Linked DNA regions of Homo sapiens. The protein of the gene in region 1 purifies or fractionates together with the protein of each later gene. This does not show direct contact. Each region holds a gene or a part of one and is shown in the gene's direction. Other genes may lie near its edges.

Region 1 (3,652 bases):
CAAACTCCCACGCTCAAGCGATCCTCTCACCTCAGCATCCTGAGTAGCTGGGACTACAGGTGCGTACCAACATCCCAGCTGATTTTATTTTAAAAAAATGTTTTGGTGTGGGGAGGGATTTCACTATGTTGCCCAGGCTGGTCTCAAACTCCTGGCCTCAAGTGATTCTCCTGCCTCAGCCTCCCAAAATGCTGGGCTTACAGGCATAAGCTACCATGCCTGGCCCGGGGAGTTAAAATTTTTGAGAGTAGTCAGGGAAGGCCTCCTGGGAAGGTGATTTTTGAATAAAGATCTGAAGGAGGTGAGGGTGTGCTGTGCAAGCATCTGGAGGAAAAATGTAGTCAGATGATGTCACTATCCTGTGTAAAACCCTCCTATAACTGTTAATTGCACTAAGAATAAAATCCAAATTTCCCAACTGTGCTTTCTGCCTATCTTTTCCTCTTCTGTCACTTTGCTGCAGCCACACCGGCCGCTTTTCTGTTACTTAAAGTATACCAAGCTCTATACTGAGGTGGTTCTTTTCTTTGCCTGAAACATCTTTCTACCTGTTCTTTGCAAAGCTGACACCTCATTCTTCAGGCCTCAGGTTATCACCTGAGAAAAACCTTTTCTAACCATCCTATCTGAAGTAACTCCTTTTATGGTACCATGTTTTAATGACTATAGCACTTACCAGAAGAATTTTTTTTTTCTTTAAACTTGTTTTTGGCTTACCTCCTTCACTAGAAGTATGTACACTAGAAGTAGGGTTCTGAGAGCAGGGACTTTATTCACTTCTCTTTTCCCATGCCCAGTAAGAATGAGAGGTCACCGTTTAGGAGAGTTAGAGGTATGGGCTTATATCTCTAAGAAAATGATAATTTTTAAAAAGTGCTTTATTTTTGGTATAGTGTCTTACCATAACCATTTCTCACCTTGTTGAACCCCAACTTTGCAGGGTTGTCTTTTGTTTTTGAGACAAGGTCCTGCTCATTGCCCAGGCTGAAGTGCTGTGGTGCAGTCATGGCTCACTGCAGCCCTGACCTCCCAAGCTTAAGCTATCCTCCCACCTCAGCCACCTGAGTAGTTGGGACCACACCTGGCTAATTTTAAACTTTTTTTTATAGAGATGGAGTCTGTGTTGCCCAGACTGGTCTCACATTCTTGCCTGGGCCTATACACCTCAGCCTCCCAAAGTGTTGGGTATACAGGCATGAGCCACCATGCCTGGCTAACTTTGTAACTAGGGAGGAGAGTTTTTGGATGTAGGGATGTCTTGACCCTATTGACTAACCATATTATCCTTTACTTTTGTAGAGACGCTCTCCTGGTCTGTGTTCTGACTCTTTGGAAAAGAGCTTAAGGATCACTGTTGGCAATGACCACTTCTGTGTTAGCACACCAGAACGGCGACGGCTTAGTGATCGGCTGGGGTCACCAGTGGATAATCTGGAAGACATGGACAGGTAGGCATCACCTAAGGCAGGGCCTACTATACTAGTACTTGAAGGCAGAAATGTTGCTGTTTTCCGAATGATATATTTGAAAGGATGGTGCCAGCTCTAAAGTTATTTCCTATGCCACATGTCCAGTACAAAATAAAACGCTGGGATAGAATTTCTAAGTGGGAGGAGTATAATGATGTGTAGACTCTGTTGTTGAATAAATTGTATAGAAAAAAAGACTTTAAAAAGGTCATCTGAGTCTGACTAGAAAGAAGAGGCTGAGGGGACATAATCAGAGTCCCCCAAATGAAGAACAGTTGAGATGGTATAGATTCTAAAACAGTGAAACTATGAGCAGTCCCTTCTCCAAAGAAAAGTTCTGGACAAAATGGGAAGTCTTTTTAAAATGGTGTTATTTTTTAGTTTATCCAGGCTGAAACAGATTCAGAAAGGGTTAGGTAAGTTCATGTCTAATATATGTGTGTATGTGAAGTAGATAAAGTATTAATAGAAAGCTAGAGACCTTCAAAAATGTTTAAGTTCAGTTATTATTTTACAACTATTGAGTGCTGAGGAAGGGTAGATACACTCAAGAGAGTTGGATATAGACCTCAGGTACTAGGAACTTAACCATATATAGATTGTAAATAATCACATTAGGTGTTTTTCACCTCACAAAAGTCAAAGTATGGATGGGAGTTCAGGAAAGCACTCTTTCTCAGAGCTGAGACCATGACTGTTATGGTCTCTGCCCAGCACATTGGGAGTTTTGACAAATGATTAGCAGTAGCAATAAATCAATGTAATGTAATTTCAAACTGAGACTGTCGCTTGCCGTGTTGCACAGAGCATAGCTAGGCGGGTGGGGGAGAGCTGGGCAGGAAGTCTGAGGACCAGTTTTGCCGTTGGTAATACCTAAAAGTTCCATTGGCTGTGGATGCAGTGAAGCAAGGCAGAACAGTCTTTTTTTTTTTTTTTTTTCAGGCTTAATTCACTTTATATTTCTTGTATAAAAACCCTATGTTGTAGCCACAGCTGGAGCCTACGTCCTCTGCACAGAGACTCTGGTGTGTGTCTTGATGAGGTGGTCAGTGAATTCCTGATAGGGAGACTTGGTGAATCCTGTCTCCTTCCAGAGGTCGGGGGTCAGGTAGCTGTAGGTCTTAGAGATGGCATCAAAGGTGGCCTTGGCGAAGTTGCCCAGGGTGGCAGTGCAGCCCCTGGCTGAGGTGTAGCAGTCATCAATACCAGCCATCATGAGCAGCTTCTTGGGCACGGGCTGAGACGATGCCAGTGCCCTTGGGCGCAGGGATGAGGTGCACCAGCACAGAGCCGCAGTAGCCTGTCACCTTGCAAGGAACGGTGTGGGGCTTGTGGATCTTGTTCCCCCAGTAGCCTCTGTGCACAGGGAGAATGGAGAGCTTGGCCAGGATGATGGCCCCGCAGGTGGCAGTGGCCACCTCCTTGGAGCACTTAACACCCAGACCGACGTGGCCATTGTAGTCCCCGATGGCAACAAACGCCTTGAACCTTTTCAACTGGCCAGTGTGGGTCTGCTTCTGCACTGGCATAATCTTCAACACCTCATCCTTGAGAGAGGCCCCCAGGAAAAAGTCAGTGATCTCAGATTCCTTGATGGGCAGGAAGAAGAGGTAGTTCTCCAGGGACTTGATCTTTATGTCCTTAACCAAGCAGCCCAGCTTGGTGACAGGCATCCACTCCTTATCCTTGGCCTTGCCTCCACGAGCTCCGTGGCCTCAGCCCTGTCCACAGCTGCAACCCCAGCCCCTCCATGGAAGCCACCACGGTTTCCCATCCCAGGGCCCCCGGGGCCTCTGCCCCCGCCCCACCCCCTCCACCGACATCATCTGCCATTTGGTGTTTTCTCAGAGAAGAAGCAAGGCAAAATAGTCTTATGTCATATAACATTGAAGCTTCTAAAGGGCTTCAAGATATGTGACTGTATCACTTAATTGAGGCAATAGCCCTTGCTCTTCTGGCTGCTTCTGTTTGGGGAAATTATTGAGTAGGTAGTCTGGGTAGGTGGTACATAGTGTGATTGTCTTCATTCTTTGCTGAGGTTTTGAGTTAGCTTCAGCAGTTCTTCTTAGGCCTAGGATGTCACTTCCCCTTTGCATAAACTTTGTTATGCACATGTGCTTCAGATAGAACTAATTATATTTTTAAATTACAAAAATTAAAATTTTTCCTCTTAAGGAGTTTGG
Region 2 (3,652 bases), on another chromosome or scaffold:
GTGAATTTGGAGAACACTGTGGCTGAAGGTGAGTGAGGAAAAGGTGCTTATAGGAGGAAATGAGGTTGCATAGAGATTTTATTCATTGATTTTAAGTGCTATGAGCATTCATTGGAGGATTTTGAGCAAAGCCAAAAAATTGGGTTATATTTTTAAAGAATGGCTCTGGGAATTCTTTAAAACACTGGGAACCATGAGATAAGCTAGGAAATGATTGGAATGATCTGGTTTAAGAGACATTAATGGCTTAGACTAGAGCGACAGTAGTGGCAATAGTGAAAGTTACTAGTTTCTGGCTTTAGAGAGTCAAATGTTTTGGATATGTTAAGTTTGAAGTGTCTGTTAAACGCCCAAGTGGACACATCAGGTAGGCAGTTAGATATGTAAGTCAAGCATTCAGAGGAGAGGTTTGGACTGAGGATAGTTAAATGTTAAGCATCACCAGTAGACTTAAAGGGATCTCTTGGCTAGGGAGTTAGACTGAGAAGAGATCCAAGAATTGAGAATTGGTACTTTCCACATGGAAAGCTGAGCAAAAGAGAAGGCGCCATCGAGGAGGATTGAAAAGTGGACAGTGGGGTGTGAGGAAACTGAAGAGTGTGTTGTCCCACAAGCCAAGTAAAGGAAGTATTTTTAGAGATAAGGAGTGATCAGTCCCCTGTATCACCTTTAATCACCTAAATACTTCATAAGAAATCAGGCAGTATCCTCTTTCTTTCTGAATGGTCTCTGAGAAAGCAATTTCCTTTTTTAAATCTGGTTTATCAACATGAATGTTCACAGTTATTCTCCCCTGGCAACTACTAAATCTAAAGCCCTGAACAAAGTTTTACTCATAAAGAGGCCAATGCTGTTTCCTACGTGGATGAGTATGGCAGCTGCTGCTGCCTCTGATGTTTGAACAGGAGAAGCGATGCTGTTTCATAGGAAGAATTTATCAGGAAGCTAGTGATAGTCCAGCTACCTCAGAGGTTTATTGTGGTAGCCAAACGAGGTAGATGTAAAAACCAAATGAAAGGTATAATTGCAGATAGGGGTCTCCTTCCCTTATTGCCCCAAGTGTGGTACCAACTTGATAGTGTTAGATTTGAAGAACTATGTTGGCAAATAAAAATATTTTTCATTTTGAGTCTGTAGGAATAGTTTTTTACTTCCTATGCACTCTATCCCGATAGGCAGTTTCGCACATCATTTTATAATATTCTTGAGGGTAGAGAAAAGGGCTAGAAAGAGGATAAGAACAACCAGGGCAGGCGCGGTGGCTCACGCCTGTAGTCCCAGCACTTTGGGAGGCCGAAGCGGGTGGATCACCTGAGGTCAGGAGTTCGAGACCAGCCTGGCCAACATGGTGAAACCCCGTCTCTACTAAAAATACAAAAATTAGTCAGGCGTGGTGGCGCAGGCCTGTAATCCCAGCTACTCAGGAGGCTGAGGAAGGAGAATTGCTTGAGCCCAGGAGATGGAGATTGCAGTGAGCCAAGATCACGTCACTGTACTCCAGCCTGGGCAACAGGGTGAGACTCCATCTCAAAAAAGAAAGAAAAGAACAACCAGGCTTTGAGATAATAGCTTTTTTTCCCAATCCTAAACTCATCCTTTAATTCTAAACAGTGTCTAAATAAAGAGAATTGAGGTAGAAAAGTAAGCAAGTTAAAAGGCTTCCTTACTTTTTTTTTCCCTAGGCCAGCCAGGAAGACTTTCTTCTTTTAACTGACTTTTTTCTGGAAAGTGTTCAACTGAGTAATGGTTTGTCACATGTTACATGGAATAGAAAAAGTGCAAATTCAAAGCTTAGGGACTGGTTAGGGGTTTTGAACTCTAGGCAGCCAGCTAGAAACTGATTTGAGGAAGCAGGAGGGTGGGGGAAATGAGTCTGCTTGATGATAATAGGGGTAAAGTGCAAAATACTTATTTTGGTGAAAAAGGAACATCGCAAATACAGGACTTTTTGTGGTAAGCTTTTTGAGGCAATAGGACTATAACTTCACAATACATAGGTATCTTGCAGACCTTATATAATATGATTTGCTATGGCTGGTCATTAAATACTTCTCCTTGGATAAAAAATGCATATAATGCATTGCAAATTGAAGGCCATTTTATTTTTTATATTACAAATCTAATCCTAATACATGGCAGAAAATTTAGAAAACAAGATTTTCTACCATTAAGTACTATCATAATCCCACTAGCCAGTAACCCTGTTATGTATTCTTGTCTATTCTGGTTTAATTTGGTAACATTTTATCATGAAGTTAAACTTTCTGGCTCTAACTTTTAATGTGGCATAGAATCTGTCTTCTCAAACATGTAATCTACTTACACACAATTTATGAAAATTAAATGTATTTTTAAAATTGTAAACAACAGGCCGGGCCCAGTGGCTCATGCCTGTAATCCCAGCACTTTGGGAGGCCGAAGCCAGCAGATCACTTGAGGTCAGGAGTTCAAGACCAGCCTGGCCAACATGGGGAAACCCTGTCTCTACTAAAAATACAAAAATTAGCTGAGCGTGGTGGTGCACACCTGTAATCCCAGCTACTCGGGAGGCTGAGGCAGGAGAATCGCTTTAATCCAGGAGGCAGATGTTGTAGTGAGCTGAGATTGCTCCACTGCACTCCAGCCTGGGTGGCAGAGCGAGACTCTGTCTCAAAAAAAAAAAAAAAAAAAAAAAGTAAACAACACTGTAATGGACATTTCTAACTCTGAATTTCTGTGCAAATCAATGTTTTTCTTTGATTTCAACAAATTATGCTTAAAATACAATGCAGATACAAATGCAGAATTCTACTAATTAAACCTTTTCTAACTTTTTAATAAAATTACCCCCTCCAGTTTATATCAGTTTATTCTTCTACCACTGGCATATGAAACTGTGTGTTTCTTCACCCCTTCATCAGTGCTGAATATTACGTATCTTTTTTAAAATTTGCTTTCTTTTTTCTTTTTTTTTTTGAGACGAGGTCCCGCTCTGTTACCCAGGCTAGAGTGGAGTGGTGTGTTCATGGCTTGCTGCAGCCTTTACCTCCTGGGCTCAAGGGATCCTCTCCGCTCAGTCTCCCAGGTAGCTGGGACTGTAGGCATGGGCTGCCATGCCCATCTAAGTTTTTTTGTTTTCTTTTCTTTTTTGTGTTTTTTTTGTTTTGTTTTTTGTTTTTTGTTTTTTGTTTGTTTGTTTTGTTTTCTTGAGATGGAGTCTTGCTCTGTCGCCCAGGCTGGATTGAAGTGGCGAGATCTCGGCTCACTGCAACCTCTGCCTCGCGGGTTCAAGCAATTCTTCTGCTTCAGCCTCCTGAGTAGCTGGAATTACAGGCACACACCACCACACCTGGCTAATTTTTGTATTTTTAGTAGAGACGGGGTTTCACCATGTTGGTCAGGCTGGTCTTGAACTCCTGACCTCGTGATCCGCTCACCTTGGCCTCCCAAAGTGCTGGGATTACAGGCGTGAGCCACCGCACTGGCCAAGGTTTTTTATTTTTTTATAGAGACAAGGTCTCATTTTGTTCCCTAGGCTGGTCTCAAACTCCTGGGCTCTAGCAGTTTTCCTGTCTCAGCATCCCAAAGTGGTGGGGTTACAGGCATGAGCCACCCAATCTGGACAGTTTTGCCACTTTGATGAACAACAACCAAAAAAAAAAACCTTATTTAA

Evidence for each region.
Region 2: the proteins of ZNF318 (region 1) and CEP170 purify together in Homo sapiens (co-immunoprecipitation; one large-scale study listed by IntAct). This does not show direct contact.

What each region holds. Positions count from the first base shown.
Region 1 is NC_000006.12:43,363,088-43,366,739, reverse strand, and holds part of ZNF318 (zinc finger protein 318), read left to right. Parts: intron 1-1,299; coding exon 1,300-1,448; intron 1,449-2,520; exon of another isoform or gene 2,521-3,325; intron 3,326-3,652.
Region 2 is NC_000001.11:243,245,249-243,248,900, reverse strand, and holds part of CEP170 (centrosomal protein of 170 kDa), read left to right. Parts: intron 1-3,652.